7 linked regions of the Homo sapiens genome follow. The protein of the gene in region 1 purifies or fractionates together with the protein of each later gene. This does not show direct contact. Each region holds a gene or a part of one and is shown on either strand. Other genes may lie near its edges. The genes, in order: UGT1A7, LMF1, RTL9, LMAN2L, ST14, ROR2 and ITM2B.

The links.
Region 2: the proteins of UGT1A7 (region 1) and LMF1 purify together in Homo sapiens (affinity purification with mass spectrometry; one large-scale study listed by BioGRID and IntAct). This does not show direct contact.
Region 3: the proteins of UGT1A7 (region 1) and RTL9 purify together in Homo sapiens (affinity purification with mass spectrometry; one large-scale study listed by BioGRID and IntAct). This does not show direct contact.
Region 4: the proteins of UGT1A7 (region 1) and LMAN2L purify together in Homo sapiens (affinity purification with mass spectrometry; one large-scale study listed by BioGRID and IntAct). This does not show direct contact.
Region 5: the proteins of UGT1A7 (region 1) and ST14 purify together in Homo sapiens (affinity purification with mass spectrometry; one large-scale study listed by BioGRID and IntAct). This does not show direct contact.
Region 6: the proteins of UGT1A7 (region 1) and ROR2 purify together in Homo sapiens (affinity purification with mass spectrometry; one large-scale study listed by BioGRID and IntAct). This does not show direct contact.
Region 7: the proteins of UGT1A7 (region 1) and ITM2B purify together in Homo sapiens (affinity purification with mass spectrometry; one large-scale study listed by BioGRID and IntAct). This does not show direct contact.

What each region holds. Positions count from the first base shown.
Region 1 is NC_000002.12:233,768,722-233,771,996, reverse strand, and holds part of UGT1A7 (UDP-glucuronosyltransferase 1A7 precursor), read right to left. Parts: intron 1-3,275.
Region 2 is NC_000016.10:953,445-957,769, forward strand, and holds part of LMF1 (lipase maturation factor 1), read right to left. Parts: intron 1,223-4,325; coding exon 913-1,222; intron 1-912. UniProt on the Homo sapiens protein: Involved in the maturation of specific proteins in the endoplasmic reticulum. Required for maturation and transport of active lipoprotein lipase (LPL) through the secretory pathway. Each LMF1 molecule chaperones 50 or more molecules of LPL.
Region 3 is NC_000023.11:110,361,335-110,365,659, forward strand, and holds part of RTL9 (retrotransposon Gag-like protein 9), read left to right. Parts: intron 1-4,325.
Region 4 is NC_000002.12:96,729,509-96,733,833, forward strand, and holds part of LMAN2L (VIP36-like protein isoform 2 precursor), read right to left. Parts: intron 4,094-4,325; coding exon 4,011-4,093; intron 1-4,010. UniProt on the Homo sapiens protein: May be involved in the regulation of export from the endoplasmic reticulum of a subset of glycoproteins. May function as a regulator of ERGIC-53.
Region 5 is NC_000011.10:130,187,027-130,191,351, reverse strand, and holds part of ST14 (suppressor of tumorigenicity 14 protein), read right to left. Parts: intron 3,239-4,325; coding exon 3,079-3,238; intron 2,823-3,078; coding exon 2,695-2,822; intron 2,484-2,694; coding exon 2,413-2,483; intron 1,614-2,412; coding exon 1,456-1,613; intron 1,240-1,455; coding exon 1,204-1,239; intron 899-1,203; coding exon 658-898; intron 1-657. UniProt on the Homo sapiens protein: Exhibits trypsin-like activity as defined by cleavage of synthetic substrates with Arg or Lys as the P1 site. Involved in the terminal differentiation of keratinocytes through prostasin (PRSS8) activation and filaggrin (FLG) processing.
Region 6 is NC_000009.12:91,733,111-91,737,435, forward strand, and holds part of ROR2 (tyrosine-protein kinase transmembrane receptor ROR2 isoform 1 precursor), read right to left. Parts: coding exon 4,281-4,325; intron 327-4,280; coding exon 12-326; intron 1-11. UniProt on the Homo sapiens protein: Tyrosine-protein kinase receptor which may be involved in the early formation of the chondrocytes. It seems to be required for cartilage and growth plate development. Phosphorylates YWHAB, leading to induction of osteogenesis and bone formation.
Region 7 is NC_000013.11:48,249,969-48,254,293, reverse strand, and holds part of ITM2B (integral membrane protein 2B), read right to left. Parts: intron 487-4,325; coding exon 358-486; intron 1-357. UniProt on the Homo sapiens protein: Plays a regulatory role in the processing of the amyloid-beta A4 precursor protein (APP) and acts as an inhibitor of the amyloid-beta peptide aggregation and fibrils deposition. Plays a role in the induction of neurite outgrowth.

The sequences.
Region 1 (3,275 bases):
GAATTAGTCATGCACCACTATGTCTGGCCAATTTTTAAATTTTTTGTAGAAACAAGGTCTTATTGTGTTGCCCAGGCTGTGTTACTATTATCACCTGAAAGGTTATAATTAAGAAACTTATTCTTAATAAATGTTATTGATCTCTTGAAAAAGAAGGAAGAGAAGGAGGGAAGGAAGCAAGGAAAGGAGGAAGGGAGGGAGGGAGGGAGGGAGAGAGGAAAGGAGAGAGGGACGGAGGAAGGAAGGGAGAAAAAGAAAGACCAAAATTATATTTTAGAAATATTTTAACCTTGCTTCCTACTCTTCTTCTTTTCTTTTTAGTGATATTTTGTGAGAAATTTCATTATATTTTCATACAGTAAAATAAAGAAAGGAAAATGTCACGTCAGAAATTATGAATAGTCTCCTATTTGAAGTTGTAAACAACCACCTCTGGCCAAATTAACAGCCATTTGTAAGTGCCAAATCCAAGGTGATGATATATTTGTAATTCAGTCATTGAAACATTAAACTATCTGGGTGCTAGATTTAGCATGAGGCAGGGTCTGTGCAGCCACTTAGTGCAAAATGGATTTCTGTTTATTCTGGACAGTGTTCATTGCCCAATCAGAACATCTCAATCCAAAACGGGTTAGGTGCTTCAACCCTTGGTGCTACAGGAATGAAGAGGAGATTGAAGAGGAGAGGGAAAAGGAGGAGGAAGTAGAAAAGAAAAGGGAGAAGAAAGAAAAAAAAAGGCACTCCTATTCAGGACTAATTATGATCGCTGTTGACTGATACAGTTTGGATATTTGTCCACACTCAGATCTCATGTTGAATTGTAATCCCCAGTGCTGGAGATGGGGCCTGGTGGGAGGTGTTTGGATCATGGGGTCGGATCCCTTGTGCTTTAGTGCTGTCTTCCTGATAGTGAGTTTTCATGAGTTATTGTGAGAGCCGGTCATTAAAAAGTGTGTGGCACCTTCCCCCCCAACTCTCTCTCGCTCCTGCTTTTGCCATGTGACATGCAAGCTCCCGCATTGCCTTCTGCCATGAGTAAAAGCTCCCTGAGGTTCCCCCGGCAGCCAAGTGATGTCAGCACTAAGCTTCCTGTACAGCCTGCAGAAACACGAGCCAATGAAACCTCTTTTCTTTATAAATTACCCAGTCTTGGGTATTTCTTTACAGCAATGCAAGAACAGCCTAATACACTGTCTTTAAACATATCTATAATGTTATTTGGAAACATTATTATAATGTAATATTAGTACTTGGCCATGAATCATGTTAAATATCATCTTCCTTTTACATAAACCTTAAGATGAATTTTCTTGGAACCTTCTTTTTTTTTTTTTTAAGTAAGACGGAGTCTCACTCTGTCGCCCAGGCTGGAGTGGAGTGGCACAATCTCAGCTCACTGCAACCTCCGCCTCTCAGGTTCAAGTGATTTTCCTGCCTCAGCCTCCCAAATAGCTGGGATTACAGGCATACACCACCATGCCTGGGTAATTTTTTTATATTTTTTTGGTAGAGATAAGGTTTCTTCATGTTGGTCAGGTTGGTTTCGAACTCCTAACCTCAAGTGATCCACCTGCCTCGGCCTCCCAAAGTGTTGGGACTACAGGCATGAGCCACCGTACCTGGCCAGAACTTTCATTCATTCATTCAATAGTAATTGAGCACCTATTATGGCCTGGTTGTCAGCATAAACTGATGTTTGAAAATTTTCCACTTCTTTTTATTTTGTGTAGGCACTATCCCCAGCTCAGAGTGTTGGAATCATGGAGATTCACAATCAGACAGGGATGGCTCAAAAATGAATAGATGAAAGTTAGTTAATAAGTTGAGCTCATTGATTTGTGTTTTTTTAAAAAATAATGTATTAGAGGACTTTCACCAAGTTGTTCTTAGGTTACAAGTAGTTATCTATACCACTGAAGAAAGAATCAAAATTATATCCATAATGTGAGCCTCAAGAAGGAGCTTCAACAGTGCAGGGAAAGAAGTCAGGTTTTAATGGTATTGATATGTGAGCAGGACATCCTGACATTGAGGTGGCCAGAAGAAGCCGCTGGAAGGAAGGAATGGGACCACACCACCCAACGCTCTGGGCACATGATGCTCAGGTTATGTGGACTTTTCATTTTTTTTTTTTTTTTTGAGACAGGGTCTCACTCTGTTGCCCAGGTTGCTGGAGTGCAGTGGCATGATCACGGCTCATAGCAGCCTCCAACTTCTGGGCTCAAGCAATCCTCCCGCCTTAGCCTCCAGAGTGGCTGGGACTACAGGCGTGTGCCATGGTGCCTAGCCAACATTGATCTTTTATCCAGTGCCACCACACACACATTAGCACCTCAAAGGTGGGAAGTCAGTCATCAGTCCTCCCCTGTTGTCCCTTGCTCAAGCTGGTGTGTCCCCGTGTTCCGTCTCCTCTCATCTGAACATGCTCCAGCTCTTCACATCTGTCTTCCTGACTGCTGCTTCTTTCTAAAGGAGGTAACCATGGGAGAAAGCAATGGACACTCTCATAAACACACGCACACACACACACACGCATATGAATGCACACGTGTGCACCCACACATGAGCACAGCCACATGCACAAACGCACACGCACATATGCACACAGTATCTATTGTCGGATGAAATCTACCACTGGCCACCACTTCTTCCCATAAGGTTCTAATAAGCCTATTACCAGTGAGCTTGACAGTAATATACTAACTTTAATCCAGAAATCATTTGCCCTTTGAATCGTTTTCAGGGCCACATTTGAGCAAATTTTCCTTTGCTCTTATTCTAAGACTTTGTCTGTGATATCTTATAGCTCCTTCATTCATAAACTCCATGGACAAAATTTCTCACAGGTTCCAGTGCTGCAAAAAGCTGTACTTCTAAGCATTTGAGTTGTTTTTCTCTTAAAGATACTATGCTTCTTATAATGGAGTATTTCTTTCTGTGCAGGAAACTTATGGATCAGATGTCTATTATGGCAACTTTTTATGTAAATTGGAGTTTTAAATCTAATGGGGGAAATAAAATTCTAAATAAATTATATGATAAATTATATAGAAACTAAAGAATCCTTTTATAAAGTGAATAATAACCTCTAAATTATCTTATTTATAAATCCAGGTCAGACGCGCTGGCTCATGCCTGTAATCTCAGCACTTTGGCAGGCCGAGGCAGGTGGATCACCTGAAGTCAGGAGTTCAAGACCAGCCTGACAAACATGGTGAAACCCTTTCTCTACTAAAAAATACAAAAATTAACCGGGCGTGGTGGTGGACACCTGT
Region 2 (4,325 bases), on another chromosome or scaffold:
CACACCAGCCTCCTACACGTCCACACAGACACCCACCCCAAACCAGCCTCCTGCACGTCCACACAGACACCCCAAACCAGCCTCCTACATATCCACACAGACACCCCAAACCAGCCTCCTACATATCCACACAGACACCCCAAACCAGCCTCCTACACGTCCACACAGACACCCACTCCAAACCAGCCTCCTACACGTCCACACAGACACCCCAAACCAGCCTCCTACATGTCCACACAGACACCCACCCCAAACCAGCCTCCTACATGTCCACACAGACACCCACCCCAAACCAGCCTCCTACATGTCCACACAGACACCCACCCCAAACCAGCCTCCTACATGTCCACACAGACACCCACCCCAAACCAGCCTCCTACATGTCCACACAGACACCCACCCCAAACCAGCCTCCTACACGTCCACACAGACACCCCAAACCAGCCTCCTACACGTCCACACAGACACCCACCCCAAACCAGCTTCCTACACGTCCACACAGACACCCACCCCAAACCAGCCTCCTACATGTCCACACAGACACCCCAAACCAGCCTCCTACACGTCCACACAGACACCCACCCCAAACCAGCCTCCTACACGTCCACACAGACACAGACCCACTGCTTCTGCCTCCCTTTCCCCATCCCTCTGGCTCCAGTAAGCTGGCAACGCAGTCCTTTAAGTAAGGAAGAGCTACTGCAAAGAGGTGGGGTTTTAATCCTGAAGATGGGTGGCTGCTGTGGCTGGTGCACTGGCCGCTCTGCCATGGCCTAAGTAAAATGACAATACCCTCCTGAAGGAATTTAAGATAAACGCTCGTCCAGTCTTTCCAAGTGCCAGGACACCTGCAGTGCCTGTGCTGAGTGACAGCAAGCCCTAAGCTCCGACCGCCCCATTCCTGCTACTCACCAGACATGGCCCACATTAACCAGGGACATGTAGAGGCCCCACAGGGCAGCCATGAGAAGCATGTTGGCGCAGCCCGTGATCAGTACGAAAGACGAGATGCCCAGTCCGAGAAGAGCCAGCAAGTCCAGGTTGGAGTTCATGTCTGACCAGTCCATCAGCCAGAGGATGGTGGGCATGTAGCTGAAGACTTCCCAGCTCGTCCTGTCCTGGAAGTACTGCTGGAAGTTCTTCAGGAACACTCTGCAGGGAAGCAGCCCCCTGTCACCGATGAGCTGCTTGTTCTGATGGAAAGCCACCAGGAATGCCACGACTGGAAGAAAAAGAAGACAAAACAAGCATGACTAGGAACAAACCACATGTGGACACCATGGGCGCAGCTCAGAATGCGGGGCGAGGCAGGCGGGAAGGGGAGGCAGAGTCTGGCTGACGGTTTGGGGCCAAACCCTAGACTCAGGAGTCTGAGTACTTTCTCAAGATTTTGGGGGAAACACTGGAAAAGCCAACCTGCAGCAGACGCGGTGTGTGCATACACGCATACACATCTAAGTGAACTAGACACGTTACATAAAATGCGTGCCCGCAGCAGACGCGGTGTGTGCATCCACACACACACATATCTAAGTGAACCAGACACGTTACATAAAATGCGTGCCTGCAGCAGATGCGGTGTGTGCATACACACACACACATCTAAGTAAACTAGACACGTTACATAAAATGCGTGCCCGCAGCAGACGCGGTGTGTGCACACACACACACACATCTAAGTAAACTAGACAAGTTACATAAAATGCGTGCCTGCAGCAGACGCAGTGTGTGCATACACACACACACATCTAAGTAAACTAGACAAGTTACATAAAAGGCGTGCCTGCAGCAGACGTGGTGTGTGCATACACACACACACATCTAAGTAAACTAGACAAGTTACATAAAAGGCGTGCCTGCAGCAGACGCGGTGTGTGCATACACACACACACATCTAAGTGAACCCGACCCGTTACATAAAATGCGTGCCCGCAGCAGACGCGGTGTGTGCATACACGCACACACATGTAAGTGAACCAGACACGTTACATAAAATGCGTGCCTGCAGCAGACGCGGTGTGTGCATACACACACACACACATCTAAGTAAACTAGACACGTTACATAAAATGCGTGCCCGCAGCAGACGCAGTGTGTGCATACACGCACACACATCTAAGTGAACCAGACACGTTACATAAAATGGGTGCCTGCAGCAGACGCAGTGTGTGCATCCACGCATACGCATAGAAGCAAACTAGATGCTTGTATATAAATTCCGTGTCTGCAGCAGATGCAGTGTGTATACACGCACACACATAGAAGTAAAGTAGACATGTGTATATAAATTGCGTGCCTGGCTACACACAGACAGCCAGCTGACCAACCGGACTGCACTCAGCATTCACCATTATGAAACACACCCTGAGGACCCTGGCTCTGGTCAACGGCATCACTCCCAGCACACGCTGCAGGGCTTGACACTTACTGCCTATAGGTGAGCCACACTTGCCCTCTACGCAGACCACAGGTCTCCGAGTTCACGTCTCACGGCGCCCACCCCACGACGGCTCTCTCACATCCACAGGTCTCCGAGTTCACGTCTCACGGCGCCCACCCCACGACGGCTCTCTCACATCCACAGGTCTCTGAGTTCACGTCTCACGGCGCCCACCGCACGACGGCTCTCTCACATCCACAGGTCTCCGAGTTCATGTCTCACGGCGCCCACCCCACAATGGCACTGTCACATCCACAGGTCTCCGAGTTCATGTCTCACGGCGCCCACCCCACGACGGCTCTCTCACATCCACAGGTCTCCGAGTTCACGTCCCACGGCGCCCACCCCACGACGGCTCTCTCACATCCACAGGTCTCCGAGTTCATGTCCCACGGCGCCCACCCACAACAGCTCTCTCACATCCTCTGGACGTCAGTATTTGTAGAACACTGAATGCTTACCCAGAGATGCTGACAGGTGAGAGAAGCACATTCCCATGTGTAAACGTGAAGAATGAAAAAGCAGTTGAAAGTAAAAAAGATACACCATTCAAATGTGAATCAAAAGAAAGCTGGATCTAATTCATCATGGCTGAAAAAAATTAAAAATAAAAATAAAAAATACAAACAAAAGAAAGTGGAAGTGGCTCTATTAACATCATAAAAAGTAGATTTAAGGGCTGGGCAGGGTGGCTCACGCCTGTAATCCCAGCACTTTGGGAGGCCAAGGCAGGCGGATCACCTGAGATCAGGAGTTTGAGACCAGCCTGGGCAACATGGAAAAACCCTGTCTCTACTAAAAATACAAAAATTAGCTGGGCGTTGTGGCAGGCACCTGTAATCCAAGCTACTCAGGAGGCTGAGGCAGGAGAATGGCTTGAACCTGGGAGGTGGAGGGTGCAGTGAGCCAAGATTGCGCCACTGCACTCCAGCCTGGACGACAAGAGCAAAACTCCATCTCAAAAAAAAAAAAAAAAAGTAGATTTAAGGGTCGGGCACGGTGGCTCACGCCTGTAATTCCAGCACTTTGGGAGGCTGAGGCGGGTGGATCACCTGAGGTCAGGAGTTTGGGACCAGCCTGGCCAATATGGCAAAACCCTGTCTCTACTTAAAAAATACAAAAATTAGTCGGATGTGGTGGTGCACCCCGGTAGTCCCACCTACTTGGGAGGCTGAGGCAGGAGAATCACTTGAACCCGGGAGGCTGCAGTGAGCCGAGATGGCACCATTGCACTCCAGCCTGGGCAACAGAGACTCCATCTCAAAAGGAAAAAAATCAATTTACAAACAAGGAATGACACAGGGATGAAAGAAGATATTGCATAATGATAACAATATCACAAGAGCAACCCCACAAGTACATGCGGCTTCCTACTGCGTGTAGGAATCTGGCTTGGGGTCCATGTCTGTGTAACTGTGCATGCTGGTTTGGAGTGAGTGTCTGTGTAGACATGTAGGAAGCTAGTACATGTACTTTTCCCCATGCATTTATAAATCTAAAAACATATAAACGGAATCTGCACATGGAAAACTACAAAACACTGATTAAAAAAATGAAACAAGATCTAACTATATGAAGAGATAGACCATGTTCATGGATTGGAAAAATCAAAATCATTAAGGTGTCAATTTGATCCATAAATTCGGCACAATCTGAACCAAACACCCAGTCAGTGCTTCCGCCGAGGCTGACAAGCTGATTCTAGAATATACATGGGAGAGCAAAGGGATTAAAAAGCCAAAATCATCTGGAAAAGAACAGAGGTGGAGGACTCATGTTACCCAATTTCAAGACTTACTAAAAAGCTAATCAAGACCACATCAAGACAGCGCAGTATTGATTAAGGAAGAGCCGCAGAACTCAATGGAATGGAAGAGACGGCCCA
Region 3 (4,325 bases), on another chromosome or scaffold:
TTTATGTCACAATGATCTGCTTCCTGGATTATATTGCACTAGCCTCTCAACTGTTCTCCTTGCTTCTGTTCTTGCCACCATCACTCAAGCCTATTATTCTCTCACTGTTTTTTGGAACCAGGATAATTTTATTATGTGAATGTCAGATCATGTCACTCCTCTGCTCAAAACTCCTCCAATGGCTTCCCATCTGACACTCAGTAACAACAAAACCCCTTATAATGGCCCATAATGCTGTATGCAACCCAGATATTGACATACTCCTGTCCTTCAGGTGATGGATCAAATATCCCACTTGGTAAAATCTTCTCTGATTACCATATTTAGTATTGCAAGCGCCTTCTCGCCATTCTCTATCTGCCTTCCATGTTTTATTTCTTTATACTTTGAATACTAGCAGATGTTATATGTTTATCTATTTATTTGTTTATCATCTATCTCCTTCTGCTAGAACAGGAGCTGGAAAACTTTTTCTGTAAAGGTCCAGATAATAAATATTTTAGGCTTTGTGAGCCACGTAATCTTTAACACAACTACCTACCTCTATCATTGTTATACAAAAGCTGCCATAGATGAGCATGGCTGTGTTCCAATAAAACTGTATTTACCAAAACAGGGAGCGGGCTAGATTTAGCTAATGGGCCATAGTGTACTGACCCCTGCTAGAATGTAAATTCCAGGAGGGCAAGGACTTTTGTTTACTGCTGTATCTCCAACATCTAGAATAGTACCTGGCATATAGTAGGCACATGATTTATTTTACTGAATGAATGCATCAGTGGGAGATTGGAAAGCTGTGGAATAAAAAATATATATATATAACAGAGCCATTGATGGTGCAGAATCCTGAACAAAATCTAGCTTTGGATGGGTTTGCAGCATATCAACTCTCCTTCCTTCTTTTTCCCCTCATCCCTACACTAAAACTTAAGCTTGTTATATAAAGTAAAAGTTGCTTTCATTGCCTGTGCAATTCTCCCAATGTGTGAAATTTCATCTGACTTCCTTTAATGTTGTCATTTGTCTATTTAACCCTCCTGACTCAGACTCCCTCTAATAACAATAATAACTCAAATACTCTGTACTAAAACCAGAACGCTGAAATCAGTATTTTTAATTAATTTGAAACAACTGCTAGCAATAGCTTCTATTGACAACTCTACGCTTTTCAACACTTAATCATATTCTGAAGTACTCCCAGAAGCTGGGCGACTGTTACTCTTATGATATGAGATGATATTTTCCTTCCATGCATTCAATGTGAATGGTTTGTTCTGAAAAACTTCAGCTTTCATGTACTCCTAATGGTAAGAATCACATGGTAGGAAATATGATAAATGAAGTATTTACCAGTTCTTACTGACTGTTCTTTCATACTTCCTTGGATCTCTTACAGGCACTAAAGATATCCTGTAGTTATATGACTTCCTATTGAAAATGCACTTTCACTCATTCATTATTTTATATAGTCTTCCACACATTGCTAACATTTACCAAACATTCACTACGTATGTGGTATTGTGCTGGGGGATTTATATATATTAATTCATTTAATTCTTATAAAACACCTAAGTGATATATACTATCATAATTTTATAGATGAAGGAACTGAAGTACTAAAAGCTGAAGTAATTTGCTCAAGGCCCCACAACCAGCAGAAAAGGAAGCTAGCATTTCAACTCAGGTCTGCCCAACTCCAGAGCCAAGATTTATCTATTGTTTTTTGTCACCTCAACAAATATTTACCATATGCCATGCAGCACACTAGGCAGTACCTACAAAGATGAATAGGGCATGATCTCCTTGGCCTTCCAGAGGTAACACTAGTTGGGGCTATATGGGTGGGAATGGAGTGTCAGATGCAGAAGCTAAGGAATTTTCTCTTTACAAACAGGTGGGTGAGAAAGTAGACACAGCACTGTGAATTTGTGGAGTTTTGAAAAATGGACAGAGGGCTACAGACTGAGAGGGAATAGGGCCACCAACTCTAGAATTAAGGTCAACTGATAGGGTAGAAACATGCCATTCTCAGGGGCTTAAGCTGACAAAAGAAATTGCCCACTGTAGAAATGAGATTGGCTGCCCACAGAAAAGTATTTACTGATAGATAAGGGACCTCCCTATGTGTCATTAAGGAGTAATGCTCTAAAATGTAATCAGTGGAAAACACAACTGTAGCCTTGGAAATGCTATGGCTGGGAAAGTCCATATAACTAAGACGGGGTTCATGATATTGTGACATGTACAAACAAGTTATTTGACCATTATAGAGAGAAAAATAAAAATAATTAGAAAGAGAAGTTGCTTTTATTACTCTGTGCCCTGGCCTACTGACACATTTATTGACTTTCTGATAGGGTGATGCATGGATGCATCAGACTGAATAAACTACATGACTCCATCTCTTCAGATCATCCCACACCATATACTATCTCTTCACTCACCAGTAATAACAGTCACCATATAACAAGTGCCTACAGAGTCAAACACTTTACATAAATTATCTTATTTAATCCTCAAGGCAACTCTATGATATCATAGAATTCTATTATTAGTTCCATTTTCAAATGACGGAACTGAGGCTCAGAGAGGTTATGTGACTTAAGCCCATAAAACGGAATGAGTGGTATATTAGTTTTCTGTGACTACCATAACAAATTGCCACAAACTTGGTGGCTTAAAACAGCAGATATTTATACTTTCACAGTTCTGGAGGCCAGAAGTTCAAAATCAAGGTGTTGGCAGGGCCATGCTCCCTACAAAGGCTCTAGGGGAGATTCTGTTCCTTGCCTCTTCCTAGCGGTTCCAGGTGTTGCTTGGCTTGTGGTAGCATCATTCCAATCCCTGCCTCTGTCTTCAGATGGGCTTCTCCCTTGTCTCTGTGCCCTGTCACTTATAAGGACACTTATCATTGGATTTACAGCCCACCCTAATCCAGGATGATCTCATGTAGACATCCTTATCTTACATACATCAGCAAAGAGTCATATTCTAAATAAGTTCACATTTTGCAGTTCCAGTTGGATGTAACTTTTGGGGGCGGTGACACAATTCAACCCACTATGTATAGCCTAGCTGGGACCCTAGCCTATCTGACTCCAAAACTCTGGCTCTTTCCACTAACTAAAGCAGGCTGCTCCCACCAAACAAACAGCCTTTTGTCTTTATTTGGTTTCCTAAGTAGATTTCCTACTGGGATTTATCAAGATGAATTAATAAATTGACATTTTGGCTTCCAAATTATTGCCTTATAAGTTTAGGTTGTGTGAAATTTGTCCCCTAGAGCCTGATCAATCCCTGGCTAAAATGGAAAAAATTGAGTTTTGGAACCTGTGAAGCTGATGAATGGATCCTGAATAGGACCAAGGTCCATTTAGAGTATAAGCATCCCACAGCCTGCCAGCCATACTAATTTCTTTACTATATATGTGACCATAATATAATGGGATAGCATAATATTCTAAGTCTACCGAAGAATGTCTAATCATCTAAGAGCTTACAGGGGGAATTTTTGTGTACCTTAATATTATATCCAGAAATATTCCCTGTAGTGCCAACTATATTTGTTCCTGAGCCTCAGCTCCCTGCATCAGGTCACAAGGAAGATGTCTCTAGGAGTTCATTATCACATTAAGACAAGGATTCTGTAGGAAAATGGGAATCTAGAAACAGTAGGGACTTCCTGTACCTCTACATCAGTGTCTTTGCAGGGGAATTGCCCTAGCTGACCAGTTGACACTGGCCTGCTCACACCTTAATTATGAATAGAATATTCCCAGGGATGTCTTTCTCAGATTGTGGTCAGTTTGTGGGCCGCCTATTGTGGTGGTCCACTGAGTGACACCTGGGGAGCTAGTTAAAAATGTCAGTTTCCTGGTCCTTTATAGCAGACTTACTGAGTTAGTATATCTGAAGATAGGGTCAGGAGCCTGCATTTTAAAACAAGATTCTGGAATAATTCTGATACATATTCAAGTTTGAGAACCATTGCCTTCTGGTGAAATCAGGCTTCCATGACGTTGAAATACAGAATAAACTCCAAATGTTCATTTACAATTCCAGCCAATAATCACTTACCTTATTGCATTCTTGTAGCGTGATCTATATGCTTTAGTTCATGTGACAATATCATTTCATATGGCTTAATTTAAATGAAAGCAAAGGCAGTTATGGCAAGATTTCTTAATCCTGCTCTCCTGAGACAATTTACATAATAACTTTTGGGGAGAATGCAATAATCTCTCTCTAATATCTTAAACTGATCTCTAAGGTTCCTTTTGGCTCCAACATTCTGATTCTATCAGTGTTCCTAGGGCTTCAAATCT
Region 4 (4,325 bases), about 140 Mb from region 1:
TAATGGCTTTTTTTTTTGAGACAGAGTCTTGCTCTTGTCGCCCAGGCTGGAGTGCAAGGGCATGATCTTGGCTCACTGCAACCTCCGTCTCCCAGGTTCAAGTGATTCTCCTGCCTCAGCCTCCCAAGTAGCTGGGACTACAGGCGCCCGCCACCACACCTGGCTAATTTTGTATTTTTAGTAGAGACAGGGTTTCACTATGTTGGCCAGGCTGGTCTCGAACTCCTGACCTTGTGATCTGCCCGCCTCAGCCTCCCAAAGTGCTGGGATTACGGGTGTGAGCCACCGCGCCCGGCCTTAAATTTAGTTTTATAAGGATAAAAGGAACCCATGTTAGTCCAAGGGTTCTCAACCTCGGCTATACATGTGAATCTCCTGGAAAGCTTTAAAAGAGGAAGGCTGCCTAGACTGCACTTCAGACGAACTGAATCAGAAGCTCTGGGGTTGGGACTGGATGTCAATATTTTTAAAAGTTCTCCAGGGAATTACAATGTGCACTTGGAAGTAAGAACCACAATAGCTAGCCAGAAAAGATGTCTCAATTTTTACCATCTAAAATAAATTTTTTTTAATTAACATCTACAAAATCCTTACAAAATAAACCCAAGTCAGAATTTCTACTTTCTCAAACCAGAATTACTACTATCTCATGGTGAAATGGAAGCTAACAGAGTTTGAACAATTTGTTTCTGGAAGAAACAGAGAGACAAGTTTAAAACTCTTGTCAGGCCCTAAAGCTGATAACTCTTATTCAGATCCATTTCTAACTACCACTATTTCCTCAGCATGACTACAAATCCAGTCATGATCCTCTCTTCAATAAAATCCTTTAATGTACCTACCCCTTCAGAATCAAGTCCAGACTCCTCAACAGGAACACAATCCTTCAGAACTTGGCCCCAAGTGGTATATGGTGAGCATGAGTCACATACATTCAGTCTGCTCTGGCTCTCATCTAAACAGTTCAGCCACCAACCACCCAAGCAGATGCCAGTCAGTCTCAGCGGCTAGTTAACATGCCGAGGCTACAGTGTTAATATTGTAGAATGCAAGGTGAACAGCAGCCCTAGGAACTGTGCAACATAACAAGACTACTGGCCCTGCTTTTCATTCTAGCCTCATCTGTCTCTGATTCTACTTTATTTCCACACACTCATTATCCCCTCTCTCTCTCTTTTTTTTGAGATGGAGTTTCACTCTGTCGCCCAGGCTGGAGTGCAGTGGCGTGATCTCAGCTCACACTGCAACCTCCACCTTCCAGGTTCAAGCGATTCTCCTGCCTCAGCCTCCTGAGTAGCTGGGACTACAGAAGCATGCCACCACACCTGACTAATTTTTGTATTTTTAGTAGAGACGGGGTTTCGCCATGTTGGCCAGGATAGTCTCGGTCTCCTGACCTCGTGATCCACCCGCCTTGGCCTCCCAAAGTGCTGGGATTACAGGCATGAGCCACTGCACCCAGCCTCATCATCCCCTCTCTTAACCTTAGGACCTCGGCTTTTTTCCCTCTGCATGGGACACGGGTTCCTTACTCTGCAGACCTCAACCTAAAAGGCACTTCCTGGAAGAAGCCTTCCCCACTACCACCAACACTACTGCCCCACTTCAGGTTAGAAGCTCCTGCTGTGTCCTCCCATAGTGCCCCAGAGTTCCCCCATCAGCATTCTCAGTGCTACTGAGTACAAGGACCATGTTATCTTGCTCACTAATTCCCAGGGCCTGGCACCTAGAAAGTGGTTAATGTATGTGGAATGAAGAACAGCCCAGAAGGAACACAGAGAAGCAGCTGTAACTGATCCACAACAAAAGGTTATTCTCCTAACTCAGGTCTCACATTCCACCACCTTTAAAGTGAGCTCGCTGGGCACAGTGGCTCATACCTGTAACCCCACCACTTTGGGAGGCCAGGGTGGAGGAATCACCTGAGGTCAGGAGATGGAGACCATCCTGGCCAACATGGTGAAACCTTGTCTCTAAAAATACAAAAATTAGCTGGGCGTGGTGGCGTGTGCCTATAATCCCAGCTACTCAGGAGGCTGAGGCAGGAGAATGGCTTGAACCCAGGAGGTGTATGTAGGTTGCAGTGAGCCGAGATTGCACCACTGCACTCCAGCCTGGAGACGAGCGAGACTCCATCTCAAAAAATAAAAAAAATAAAAAATAAAAAGTGAGTTCTGTGGGAAATGTTAACAGCTGTTGAATCTAAGCATCACAGATACAATGATCATTCTCTATTCTTCTAATTTTTTTTGTTTATTTTGGTGACAGTCTTGCTCTGTTGCCCAGGCTGGAGTGCAGTGGTGTGATCTCAGCTCACTGCAACCTCCGCCTCCTGGGTTCAAGCCATTCTCCTGACTCAGCAACCTGAGTAGCTGGGATTACAGGCTGCAGTGCAATGGCGTGGTCTCAGCTCACTGCAACCTCCACCTCCCAGGTTCAAGTGACTCTCCCACCTCAGCCTCCCAAGTAGCTGGGACTACAGGTTAACACTAATACTAATAAAAATACTAATTTTTGTATTTTTAGTGGAGACAGGGTTTCATAATGTTGGCCAGGCTGGTCTCAAACTGCTAACCTCAAGTAATCTGCCCACCTCGGCCTCCCAAAGTGCTGGGATTACAGGCGTGAGCCACCATGCCTGGCCTTCTAATGTTTTTTAAGTTTGAAAATTTTCATAATAAACCTTTGAGGAAAAAAATAATGTGACCTTTGCCTCTATTTCTAATCCTGATTTCCTCGCTAGGTACTTAGCTACAGGATACCCAGCAACAACCTGTCATAATTTCCCACCATCTGATGGCAGTGCCGTAGGACATAGAGAGAGTACAAACCCACTGTCAATATAAGAAAGCAATAGCCGGGCATGGTGACTCACGCCTGTAATCCCAGCACTTTGGGAGGCCGAGACAGGCGGATCACGAGGTCAGGGGTTCGAGACCATCCTGACCAACATGGTGAAACCCCGTCTCTACTAAAAATACAAAAGTTAGCTGGGTGTGGTGGCATGCGCCTGTAGTCCCAGCTACGCGGGAGGCTGAGGCAGAAGAATAGCTTGAACCTGGGAGGCAGAGGTTGCAGTGAGCCGAGATCGCGCCACTGCACTCCAGCCTGGGCGACAGAGTGAGACTCTGTCTCAAAAAAAAAAAATTAAAAAAAAAAAAGAAAGCACTAAAAAACTCTTAGGTCAGGTAACAAAAAGGCCTGCCAACAGCCAGATACTAGGTTCCAACAAAATGCTGGGCTTTCATCAGTTTCCTTCTCGTTATAGCCTTTTCTTTCTTTCTTTTTTTTTTTTTTGAGACAAGAGTCTCACTCTGCTGCCCAGGGGGGAGTGCAATGGTGTGATTCTCTTGCCTCAGCCTCCCGAGTAGGTGGGATTACAGGCACCCACCACCACACCCATCTAATTTTTATATATTTAGTAGAGACGGGGTTTCACCATGTTGGCAAAGCTGGTCTCGAACTCCTGACCTCAGGTGATCTGCCCACCTCGGCCTCCCAAAGTGCTGGGCTTACAGGTGTTAGCCACCACACCTGGCCAATTATAGCCTTTTCTATAGGCGAGGAGAACTGTTCTTCAGGTCTGAGAAGAAGAAGAAGAAAAAGAAGCTGAAAAGTGTGTGCAAGTTGCAGAAGAGAGCACAGCACTGATGGATTAAAAGTCAGGGGAGGCTGAGTTACGTAAATTCAGCTTGCTCTGGTGCTGGTCTAGCAGCCAAATCACCAATCAACCAAACATGCTCAATTTTAGTGGCTATCTAATAGGCACAAGAGAGAACATGATTATCACTAAAGAAAAAGCCCCTGTTCAAGACAGCTATTCCCAAAAGACTGTGCACTCCTAAATAGTCCCTTTAGAAAAAAACACTGACAAGGACATTAACTTTCAAAGTTCAACAGATGAAGAACCCCTCACTTTCTATCTCCTTTGTTCCCTCCTGTACAACATTCCTGAGGCAAAGAACTGTGATGTCAGTGTAGCTGACCTAGGCTCTGACACTTGCCATTACCTCTTGCTGCTTCTCCTCATTGGGGTAGGTGTCTACAAATACTCCCAGCCCCACAAATTTGTCCATGTTTCCAAACACAGGCCCTAGAGAGAGAGAACAGATGATGAACAATGAAATAAAGCTAAGAGTTGATAAAGGAATAATATATCACTATGATGGAGGAAAAAGTAAAATTCAAATGACTCCCAAGCCTCTCTCAAGATGAGAAAACACATGTTTAAAAGTACCCAGCAAAGTGCATGGCCTGTAACAAGTGCCCAGTAAATATCTGTAATTGTTTGTTGTTGGAGGCAAGGGAAAGAGAGAAGGCCACTG
Region 5 (4,325 bases), on another chromosome or scaffold:
GGTGTTTCCTCATGTGGCCTGAGGCAGGTTCTTTCTCTGTTGCCCAGGCTGGAGTGCAGTGGTGCAATCACCGCTCACTGCAGCCTCGACCTCCTGGGCTGGAGATCCTCCTGCATCAGCCTCCTGAGTAGGCATGCGCCACCACACCCAGCTAAGCTTTTTATTTTTTATAGAGGCAGAGTCTTGTTGCCCAGGCTAGTCTCAAACTCCTGGCCTCAAGAGATCCTCCCGCCTCAGCCTCCCAAAGCGCTGAGATTACAGGCATGAGCTACCGTGCCCGCCAACAAAATTGTCTTTTCAAGAGCAGTCATCTCCTGATCTGTTGGCCTTCATATCCCTGAATAATAAAGCCTACATTTTACAACCGTGGGCAGTGCCTTCTCTCCGGCGGTTCAGGGCACAGGCCGCACAGGCTGGATTTGGTATCTGGGGACTATAGAGCCTTCCTCTGCTTTGCCAAGGCTGAGAAAAATCACCTCCCAGACTCCCCTGGAGCTGCAGCTGAGGATCACACCACACGTGCCTCCTGCTGCCTGGATGTTTAGCAGTGGCCTGCGGCCAAGAGTCATAAACTGTATCCCAATCGTTGAAGAAGCTGGCCCCCTACAGGGCAGCCGCCAAGCTCCCACAGCCCTACCCGCCCCCCGGGGTACTCACTGCACCAGGGCGTGGGGCTCCATGGGGCTCAGGGTGTTGTACACCGTCACCAGGTCGCTGCCGCGCTCGTCGCAGGACGCAAGGTCAAAGCTGCGGAAGGTGAGGCTCAGCACTGAGTCGGCGTCCCCCCGCAGGGCCCACTGGCAGCGGGCATGAGCGGGGTAGGGGCTGTCAGGGAAGCCGGGCGTGGTGAAGCGCATCAGCTCCACACCGCGGGCGTGCAGGCCAAAGCTGCAGCTGTCTGCGCAGGAGACAAGAAGGAGGGCACGTGTGGGGGCAGGGCTGGGCAGAGCTGGGGGAGGACCCTGAGACCCCGTGGGTGTGGACCTCAGGCCTCGCCCCTTCGAGACGCCCCAGGCTGCCCTGGGCCTCGGGAAATCAGGAAGGGGGCTTCTCAGAAGGGCCTGGAAGAGGAAGGGCCTGGAAAGATCGTCATAATATACTTCATTCAGAGGGACATGCTTCTGGGGACCCCACTGGCTCAAGGGCATCTGGCCACATCCCGCCTCTTCCCCACCCAGAAGAGGAGGCGGGCACGATACTTACTGTCCTGGGTCCTCTGTACTGTTTTGGAGTCCGTGGCTGAAGAATAAGAAGGAGAATAAAGCATTTCCTGATACAATCCATTTCCTTATTCCTGCTTCCTTATTATCTAAAGGGAGGTGCCCGGCCAGCACGTAGTCTTCTCTCTGGGGCACTGGGCCCTGGGAGTGCCGGTCCCCTGCAATGGTCCAGGGCCCAGCCCCACTCCATGGAAGGCTGGCCAGTCCCACGCCCACCCCTGGCCCTCGGACTCACGGAAAGCCACCACTGAGGTGACCACAAAGGACTTCAGGGAGCGCGCCCGCGGGGGCAGCATGACTACGCGCTCCTCGGCCATGACGCGCTCGGCCTCCTCCACCAGGTGCTGCGGGATGCTGAACTCAGACCAGTAGTAGGCGATGACGCTGCCCTCGCTGGGGAGAGAGCGGGAGCCTGAGGCGGAGCTCTGGGCCCCATTTCCCCCACGTGCGCCCAGAGCGACTCCAGGACACATGGGCGGCTCGGGGCACACCTGGGCCTGCCATCTGCAGAGGCCCTTCCCCAGCTCCTCTTGTGTCATCCCTCTTTCCACCCCAAAGCAAGAGGCCTTGCCCTTTGCCCTCTGCTCTCACAGTCTCATCCCCAACCAGACCGATTCTGGGGGCTGCTCAGGGGTAGGAATGAGGAGGGGAAACCCATTGGAGTTTGGCCACAAGCGAGGACACACCGAGTGTCACCTTCCTGAGCCTGTTTTCTGACCTGAGAAAGGAACTGGGAATGCCACCTGCCACACAGCATTCCCCAGGGTTCAAACGAACTAGCAAAATAAAAAGCACTTTGAGAATAAAGTCTATTTTTTTACAAAAGTATGCGTGAAAAACTGCTCAAGCACAGAAAATGTGGGGGCTCATTGAAGGCTGCCTGAGTACCCCAACTCCCCCATACCCAAATTTGGAAAAACAACAAAGAATCACAGCCGTTCCTGGCATCATGCCAAGCACGTCACAGGCCTTTGGGCAGCTCATCACAGCAACAGCTACAGGCACCTTTGCCATGGGGGCAGAAGAGTCAGGCTGCCAAGTAACGCACAGGAGGACACAGCGAGGACCCTCCTTGGCTCTCCAGGCCAGGACCTCCAGCACCATCTCCCGCTTCCTGCCCCACACACTGTACCCCGATCCTACTCCCAGCCAGTCTGGGGTGCATCCCACTGAGCCTTCTCTCCACACCCACCTGAAGGCCGTCACAGCCGACTCCTTGTGGTAGGGGCCCAGGAATGGGACTCCGCTGTACAGCAGCTTCAGCTGAGGAAGGGCAGAGACTCAAGGTGAGCCCCATGCGGCGATGACCCTGCCCCAAGCCCGGGCTGCTCCCTCCCCTCCAGGGCCCGGGTCCCCTTTGCAGATCACCCCCATCCCAGGGCCCTGGGAGCACAGGCGAGGCATGTCCCTCCTGCCCAGCAGGTGGGACACCAGCGCACACAGCCCAGCAGGACTCTGGGCAGGCTGCACTCACCGCGTCCTTCACCTTGCTGGCCAGGCTTACAAACTCAGTGGAGTTGGAGTTCTCGTAGGCATCCACAAAATTCTCATTTGTGATCCTCATGTAGCCATTGAAGACCTTCTGGACACGCACGTCCCGGTCTGTGTGAGACCAGAAGGCGCTCAGTCAGGGGAGGTGGTACCACCCCCGCCTGTCCCTCGCCGTCCACAATGGGGAATGAATGCCAGGAGGGGGCCATGGGTCAGCCCTGACTGCTTCCCATCACTCCCCATCAGGGTTCCAGAGAGGCCAAGAGATCCTCGTGTACTCAGTAGGTGGCCCTGGGTCTGTCCGCTGAGGGAAGAGGGACAGCCACCCCTTGTCGTCCTCCCCGGAGCCAGCCCCAGCTTTACTCACACTGCAAATGCCACACCAGGAAGCCGATCCCCAGCAAGACCAAGAGGAGGCCGATCAGCACGGCTGCCAGCACCACCCAGCGCCCCGGGCCATGCTTTTCCACCTTCTTGACGTTGTTGACTGGCAGGAACTCCACGCCTTCCTCCAAGCCATTCACTTTCTGCAGGGAGAGAGGCGCCACCACTCAGACCCTCTCACCCGCTCTTCCCCTGCACCCCGCTGGGGAAGATGTTCACATTTTGTGAGGTCCAGCTTGGAGAAGAAAGCAGGGGCTTGGGTGAGAAGAAGGGGGCTTCCCCCAGAGGCATGGGGACCACTGCCCAGAGCGCAGACCCCGGGACATGAACCCTGGGCATGCTCTGGGAGGAACATGAGGTCGGCCTTCCCAACCACGCATCTCAGGGTCTGGACAGCACCAGGCGATCATTGCTTACGAATTGTTCATTTAAATTAAAACGCAATGAAGGGCTGTCGAACCCGGTCATCCAGGTCTCCCCTTCAGTGAATCACCTTTGACGTAGGTGGGTGCCCCGGAGAGTGGCCCCAGCCCAGGCCCATGACTGGCAACTGGTACCCCTGTGCAGACTTCTAGGAGCAGGCCCTGCTCCCTCGGACACAGCCCCTACCAGATTCAATCCCCCCATCACCTGGCCCAGGAGCCTGTGGCCAGCACTCAACTGCACACCCTACCCAGCGGCCTTGCCCTGCCAATGGTGAACCAGCCAAAAGTAAAAAGGTGGTGCTGTCATGGAAAAAACTGCTCTGTGTTTAACCTTGGGAGCCCCAGTCCAGGACCTCAAGGCACAGTGAGAGGCCCACTGTGGGAATCCACACCCACGCGCAGCCCCAACAGAGGGAAAAGCAAGCAAACCAAACGCCCAAAAGACAGGATGGCAACTTCCCCGGGTTCCTCCCTGCCAAGGGTATCCATGATGAGGGGCCAGAATACGGAGGGGCAGGTGGGGTGTCTGCTGCACCCAGTGACGGACCGGCGAAGGCTTCTGCCGATAGCACATGCCGTCTGCCCGCCCTGAATCCTGGGGATGCACCATGGCCTGGCACTGTGGCACTCTCAGTTTAACTACCTCACGCCCACTCAATACGGCTCACAACAAAAGCAACAGCCCATCCCACACCCACAGGTGTTGGCCCTTTTGACAGTTTCCTGATGTCATTCTTCTGGTGGTGATCTCGTAATTCGACAGTGTAAATTTAAGCTGATATGTCTTGGTTTGTCACATTTACCC
Region 6 (4,325 bases), on another chromosome or scaffold:
CGGGCACTCACAGCGGCCCAGCCTCTCGGCTGGGATGCCAATGCGCATGCAGTTGGCAGCGTCGGGGCTCTCAGGCATGGGCAGCGCCTCACACTTGGGCAGCTGAAGCCGCATGAGGATGAGCGGGTTGGAGCGGGCGATGGTGTACTCCTGGCGGCACAGGTCGCTCTCCAGCACCTCGCACTCGTCGCGGCACAGCTCACGCGGCTTGGGTGTCCGGGAGCGCGCGTCGCACAGAGGAAACACGAAGTGGCAGAAGGATGGGATGGCGAACTGTGAGCACTGGTCCGACAGGTGCGTAGACGTGCCGATCATGGTGAAGGCCGCTGCAGAGCCCGCGAGACTCGCGTTAGCGGGGGACCCACCTTGCGCCCTTGACATTCATCCAGTCCCCACCCCCAGCCTGGCATCCCAGACTGCCCACTCAGCCCCCTGATGCCCCGCCCCGCCCCAGACTCCCCAACCCCGAGCCCCGCACACCACCCTGGAGAGGCTCCCCACCAGCAGGCCAGCCTGCCCATCACCTGCTCTGATTTGCAGCAGTCACAGAAAAGTCCCTGGTCCCAGGGCCTCACTTAGAAACATCAGAAGCAGAACAAGAAAGAAGGAAAACTCGGCCCCCTAGCTCACTCCGCTAGGTGCTTCTTCCAGGACAAGAGGGTTCAGACTTCAGATGCAAAAGCAGATCCTAAGGACCCGCCATGTGTGGAGAGCGCAGGCCAAGAAGTGCAGTACCGAGCCCCAGGCTTCCCAATGTCCCAGATCTGTCTGGGGAGAAGGCTGTCCCGGAAGAGGGAGTCAGCTCAGCTCTGTGAACTGCAGCTGGAGGAGACAGTTGGTAAAATGCGGAAAGCCAAGAGGGTGAGAGCAGCAAAGTGGGAGGAGAGCCGCGTTACAACTCTGGAAGGTTCTGTGATAAGGGGGAGCAGAAAAACCCGAAGATCCAGAGCCCCCTTTGGTAGGGCGGTTTGTTTTTTAAGGGCAAGATGTCAGAGGATGCAGTTTGGTGGTTAGAAGATGGGGTGAGTTCGGGAACAAAGTGGGGGTGTTGGGGAGAGATCTGCTGCACCTGGGGTGCATGGCTGGACACTGGTAAGGGTGAAGAAGCTGGCCAAGGCAGGGCTCTAAGGAATGCATCAGCCTGCCCTGGGCTCACTACCCCATTTTCACCTGTGAAAGGCTGGCTTACAACAATTGAGCTTGGGGACAGTGGAGGCAGACAGGCCCCTTTGCCTGCACACCCAGCAGAGGCTGTGTCCTCCAGCGTGGCAGAAAACCCAGAAGCTGGCATTTAGTCCCTGAGGAGCCCTAACTCCACCCACGAATGCAGTTCAATCCCATCATTACAGATTTGGCGATTATTTGGTGATTATACAGAGGGCTGTCAAGAATGCTGGCCTTGACCTCCAGGCAAGGAAAGCGTGTAAGTGCTGTGCCAGGTTTGGCCAGCAGGTGGCAGTGCCGCTGTCAGTCATTCCCTGGGAACCCACCCAGGAACGGGATGGGCAGCTGTGTGGGAACAGCCTTGTGCGTGATCACTTTGTGGTATCACTCATGCCTTTCCGGGCCTGTTTCTGTACCTGAAGAGTGATTTGAGACCCCACACTGGGGAATGAGAGTGCACACAGAGCCTATAAAGTGGCCCTCAGCGTGAATGGGCCCAGGGGTCTGGTAAAAGGCGGCGTCAGTGGGCGGGAGCAGCCACGCTGTCCTGATTGTGTGCAGGCACTACTGTGCTCATCACATCACCTCCCCTCCTCTGGGTTCCTGTGGCCGATATTTAAATGGAGGAACAGAGAGGGCAAGCAGTTACAGTACAGGATGTCTTGGATTTGGAGGAAGAACTGAGGCTTCAACCCTGTTCAATCCCATCATTACAGATTTGGGATTATATGGATGGCTGTCAAAAATGTAGGTAGGCCTTGACCTCCAGGCAGGGAAAGATTGTCTAAGAATGCCAAAGCTGTCACTTCTCTTGGGCTAATCCACTGATAGGATGTCTCTGCTGATCTTTATAGGATTTCTCTTTCTCCTTCTCCTCACCCTGAGAATGTACTGCTTATTTCTGAAAGTGCAATTCTAGGCACAAAGAGATCCAACAACTCACATCCTGTTATCTGTCCACACCCTGAATGTCACACAACACTTTCCAACACAACACTGCACACAACGCAGTCATTACTATGCTTATTTCAAAACCACAAGTCTGTTGAGAGCAACTTCAAATTTACTGTTTTCAAAAAGCCACCCACCTAGAAAATCTTCATTCTAAACTCTTCTCTAAAAGATGCTATAAAACCAGGCTGCTTGGATGCAAGCTGATTCCTTAAACAACTCCTGAAGAGATAACTGAGGGACAATCTTGTGCCCTGGATCAGTGCTTGCCAATTAGTAGGGTGTCTAATTAATTCTGAGAGTCTGCAGCTAGCATTTTAAAAGATGGTAAGAACAGACTAGAGGATGTCAGAATGCACGGTTCCTACTAAGGGCTCTAACTTTTTTTTTTTTTTTTTTTTTTTTTTTTTTTTTTTTTGAGACAGAGTCTTGCTCTGTCTCTGGGGCTGGAGTGCAGTGGCGCGATCTGCAACTTCCACCTCTCGGGTTTAAGTGATTCTTCTGCCTCAGCCTCCCAAGTAGCTGGGATTACAGGCACCCGCCACCATGCCCAGCTAATTTTTTGTGTTTTTAGTAGAGATGGGGTTTCACCATGTTGGTCAGGCTGGTCTTGAACTCCTGACCTCGTGATTTGCCCGCCTCAGCCTCCGAAAGTGCTAGGATTACAGGCGTGAGCCACCGTGCCCGGCCACTTTTTTATTTAATGAAATAAAACTGAAAAGAAAAATCCAAGTGCACCGCTTTTACGAAGGGTGAAAGTTATTCCCTGTAACCTATGTCAGTTGTGTGAAATACATGTATGTGTACACTAAGTCATGGCGTAAAGTATATTCTCTATTTTCCACTGTGTGTTTCGGTAAAAACCTTTGAGAAGTCCTACTTTAATGGCAAAGAAAGCTTTTGCAGTGAGAGGTAGCCATATTTTCAAAACCATCTCCCGCTGGAACAGGATGGCATCTCCAGGTTCCTCTCTGTCTCATGATGGCTCTTTCAGTTTGCACAGGACCCCCTGGCCCTGTCCTCAGAGGTCTCTGTACCAGCACATGGGCCAGGCAGTCTCTTCTGTGACCGTGAATGTGATGTTCGACTCTCTAGTCCGAGGGTGACCTGAACTTAGAAGGGCTTGTCAGTGACATGAGGTGACTTTCTGCCTTGGATCCTCATTGTCACCCCTTAACAGGTCAGTGCCCTGTATCCCCTTTGCCCCACCACACTCTCCCAGGAGCGCAGGCATCAGAGATCACCCACTGACTCTAATCTGCAGCAGAGCCTCCCGCTCCCATGGAGAGGATCCAACTAAACTGAGGTGCTGGGGCACCGGCCATCTGCACAGGATGTGTCTTGCTCCTTATGGGATCTGGAGAGAAAATGTGTATGTGTTTGTGGAGAGAGTAGAGACAGCAGGAGGAGGGCTCTGTAGGACTATTGTCTAATTAATTTTCTTCCTTTCCAAGGCCTTTCCCCTAAGAAGGACCCCGGACCCCATCAATGTGTTCGAGTTGTATGCTGGGAACTGGGACAGCCAATCAGAGAAGTTAAGTCCTAATGAGACCAAGGATGAGCAGCTGCAGTTCCTAATTGACTTGCCACTTTCTCAGACCCTGAACCAGGTACCCAAAGACGTGGCTTTGTTCTCTGGAAACCCAGGACTGACAAAGTGTGTGTTCACTGCAGCATCCCTACCACTGATGACCCGCGACTCTTTCCCCAAAACAGCTGCAATCAGGCCTGGGTGCCTTTGGACCAAACGTGGCTCAGAGAGGATAGAAGAGTCAGGAAGTACAGAATGAGAAGTCAAGCAGAGTGAGTGTGGGGGCGCTGAGGCTATCTGCGCCAGTGTGGCAGGCCCGGGGCAGGAGGCCCTGGCGTTGCAGTGAGGACAGTGCTTTGGACCCACACGGTTTGGCTGAGTTAAAAGTGCAGAAGTATATTCCAAGCAACCCACACTTGCTAATTTAAACATACAGGCCAGGAACATTTTTAGGGCAAATCATGTTAGCAATTGCCACTACTTCTAAAAAAGATCTCTGGTTTCTACCACAAATGAAATGGAAGAGGCACCCACTGACCATGCCATTAACTGATGAAACACAGTGGCCACCATCTGTGCGACAGATGGCTGTGTGCATGCTTATCATCCTGGGAGAAAGGTCTGCAGCTCCTACCTGTGATTCGGTTTTCAATCTCCCCCTGCATCTGAAGCGAGTCCA
Region 7 (4,325 bases), on another chromosome or scaffold:
ACATGAAAACATTTGTGGCTGATGTATTTATTCAACTGGCAATTGATAATACTATTCCTCTCAACCCTTAATTATAGTAGGAAAATAAAGGTTAGTAAAATCACCCAATGACCTAAATAAATCCCTTAGTCACCAACATTTCAAGTTACTCTGCTTTTAGTGACTGTGTGTGATGGGCTCAGCAAACATATCATGGAGAGATGTTTAAACACAGCTTTAAAATAGAACTACCACTCTGGCTGAAGGTCACAGATAAAAAGTACAAGCTTAGCGCAAGTTGTAAACAATTTTGTAATGCACATCGGGAGAGGCAAAAAAAAAAAAAAATCAGAGACACAAAATAATTTTTCCACTTACTTGAAGTGCAAAATATTTGTACAAGTATGCTCCTCCTAGAATAACACCTGCAAGCATAAATGCTAGTCCAAAGCACATGCACCAACACCAGGCTCTTCTTTGGCCAACTGGTACCACATCATCTGGGTCCTAAAATATGAAAAAGACAGTTAAATATCTTATCTCCAGACAGAATAACAGAAGGCTCAGGACTAGAAAAACCTTAATGATTATCATTTTAATAAATGAAGACACAAAGACCAAAGGAGTTGTGTCTCTCATCAAAATCAACCCAGGAATGATTAAGTGGTAGCTCCAGGGCTCATCTTAATGGTTCTTGGACTGGGACATTGGTCTCTAGGAGAGTTGTCTACTTCTAATCTCAACACCCTACCTGCTAACCCTGCCTCAAGCAATGATACACTCCATAATTTTTACTTTCCATGCACAACTTTTGGTGATATATTCTATAATTTAATAATTTAGAAGAGGTTATGCTACAACTTAGTCACATAATATGATGATGAGCCTTGTACATTATAAATCCAGGGCATCTCTCTATCTGATCATTTATGAAATTATGTGTTAGGCCTGCTACAGGTGGTTTATATTTCATACCAGGTATAAAACTATTCTAAACCATCCACAAGAAAAAATTACAGGAAAATAAGGAAAAGAACAAACAATGATACTAAAATTATTTAAACAATTAGAATTTCAAAAAATAGGACAAAATTATATACATAGAAATACATAATCCTATTATGCCACTGCTCTACCCTAAACCATGGTCTGATAAAATTCTTCACTTTCTTTTAAAGATAGAAGCAGTAGAAAAAAATGAGAACATATTCAATGATAAAAATTTACTGATAAATTCAAGAAACAAAACTAGCACAGAATTTTATAAAATTTTCATTTCTATCCACTTAAGAAAACAATTTAGCATTAGAACATTATTTGGGGTCATGACATTCATAATTCCTAGATATTCCCTCCCTGTGCCCTTCTAACCTGATCCCTCTAATCTGTCACTTTAGAATTACAGCAAATTTCTGATTTGTACCCAAGTTCATGTGCAAAGAGCTAAGAAAACAAAGATACTTAAATAAGTAGTCACTCAATAAATAGTAAAGACTGCAAAAATTCATAGTATACATGAACAGCCTCTTTGAAGTACATGACTCTGTCCTTTACTTGGAAAACCCACTATGGAGTAGGCTTAAGGCAGAAAGCAGACTTCACCTAAACCTATATAATAGGATATAAAATTAGAAAGAAAAACTATGAATGATGCACAAAAACAGGATCGGTCATTGGAACAGCACTACACAACCTTTTTTGGCACCAGGGACCAGTTTTGTGGAAGACAATTTTTCCACAGACAGACTGAGGGGTGTTGGGATATGGTTTCGGGGTGAAACCGTTCCACCTCAGAAGATCACCAGGCATTAGATTCTCATAAGGAGCGCACAACCTAGATCCCTAACATGCACAGTTCACAATAGGGTTTGCGCTCCTAAGAGAATCTAATGCCCCCGCTGATCTGAGAGGAGGCGGAGCTCAGGCAGCAATGCTCACTGTGCAGCCAAGTTCCTAGCCAAGACCAGTTCCGGTACTGGTCTGTGGCCTGGCGGTTGGGGACCCCGGTATTAGAACATAGATTTGGTTGAAGCAAGAATTCAGTTACGAATGAAACCTAAGATTATATGTTTTTAATTCTAAAATGAGGAACTTTAACATGATACAACTGAAAAAGGTCTAATCCCAGATGTTGAAGCAACCAAGAACAATGTGATACGATACAGTGTGTTCCTAGGTTGAGATTTCAAACATAGAATTTAACACTGAACAACAAACAATGTGTATTCTAAGAATCAGTGCATTGCTATGAGAATGTCATGGTTTCTGTAGCACTTGTCAATATACTATGTGTGAAAGACAATGAGCGTATTGCAAGGAAGAAAAGTATGTAATGAGAATAAGTCTGAAGAATTTAGCAAGCCATGTAAGATATCCCAGCTGTGAAAAGAAAGCTACAAGAATTCCATGGAGTCATAAGGTATTATGAAACTTTAATGACGAAGTATACATCTTTTGCTTGAGCCCTTGTCTGACATAAATATCTAAGGAGGTAAGAAATCATTCCTAACATAATTAATTTTAGAGTGGAAGGAGAGTGGGGGGGATGAAAATGACAGATGGAAATAGTTATTTCCAACATTTGGTATCAGCTGCTGGGACAGCCAAATGTGCGCACACACCCACCCCATTTGGCAGGCTTTCTCTTCCAATAGTACATAAATGAATAGCCAAACAGCACAGGCAGACATCTGTAAAAGAATACGCAGCCCCAACTGGCAAATTGATGACAAGTTTCAAGGCATTGTAATATATCATTTTTAACTGTTCAACAATCATTTTGAGAATAAATTATAAATGTCTACTATGTGCCAAGAGCTGTGCTAGGCACTGGAAATGTATGCTCTGCCAAGAAAGAGACCTGTTAGATCAGTCCGGAAAACAGATAAATATACAAAAAGAAAATAAATATGATACAAACTCTAATAGGAAAATGCACAGAGAGCACATAAGAGGGGATGAGTTTCAGGAAGACTTCCCAAGGGAGAAAATACTTTAGTGGAATGTTAAAGGACAAATACTCATTACCTCAGCAGAAGATAGAGTTAAAGGAAATTTTATATATGGCAATGATTTTTCAAAATTTATGGAGCTAAAATGCATGACATTTCCAAGAGCCACATGTGCTTTGGCTGGAGTGCCCAATATGGTGGAGATGAGTATGAGAAATGATGGACAAGAAGCTGGTGCAGGTCACAAAAGACCTTTGTAAACCATGCTAGAGTTTGACTTCTCATGTTCATTCAAAAATCACTTCTCAGCACTATTGAATATTTTTTTAAAATTCAATTTCTTGAGGAATTTCACTTACAAATACTTCACTTATCCACAGGTCAATTTATTCAGCACCTCAACAACGTGAAACGTGGCTTAAGAATCAGGAAATAAACAAGAGTCTTTGGTCAGCCAAATTATAGACCCCAAACCTATGCACCACCATCATGTACTTCATAGAAGAGCTGTTTAATCTTCAAAGTCTATCTAATCTTTGTTCTCTAAATTCCTAATTATCACTTTTCTTTCATGAGAATAATTCACATAAAGATCTTATCTCTCTCTACTAGGCTATAAGATCTTTTAAGTATCCATTCATATTCATTTTGCATTACTGGTAGCTCCAAGCCAAGCTTAGGCTTGGCATTAGCTGGCACTCATATATTTGATGAGTGAATAAAACTTAGATCTTTTTTTTTTTTTTGAGATGGAGTCTCGCTCTGTTGCCCAGGCTGGAGTGCAGTGGCGCGATCTCAGCTCACTGAAAGCTCCACCTCCTGGGTTCACACCATTCTTCTGCCTCTGTCTCCCGAGTAGCTGAGACTACAGGCGCCCGCCACCACACCCGGCTAATTTTTTGTATTTTTAGTAGAGACAGGGTTTCACCGTGTAGCCAGGATGGTCTCAATCTCCTGACCTCGTGATTCACCCGCCTCGGCCTCCCAAAGTGCTCGGATTACAGGCTTGAGCCACCGTACCCGGCCAACTTAGATCTATTTTTTTAAAAAGCCTGGTTATTTAATTTTTTATGATTCATAAAAGTTATACCAGCAGCCAGCGTGATAATAAGGGAAGGGAGAGATGCAACATAATTCATAACGTAAAACAAACTGTGGCTATTTAGCAAGAGCAGTAGCCTAGTTCAGCATTTATTAAGTAAGGCTTGCTATTTGCAATATACTGTGCTAGATCCTGTGGGAAATCAAATGTGATTAAGACATGGCTCCTACTTTGAGCGATTTATAGTCAAGAATTAACATCACGTATGATAGATAAATGATGTTCCATAATACAATCCGAGTCATGGAGAAGGGATTAAAGTATGCTCAAGATTTAAAAGTTTTTAATCTAAG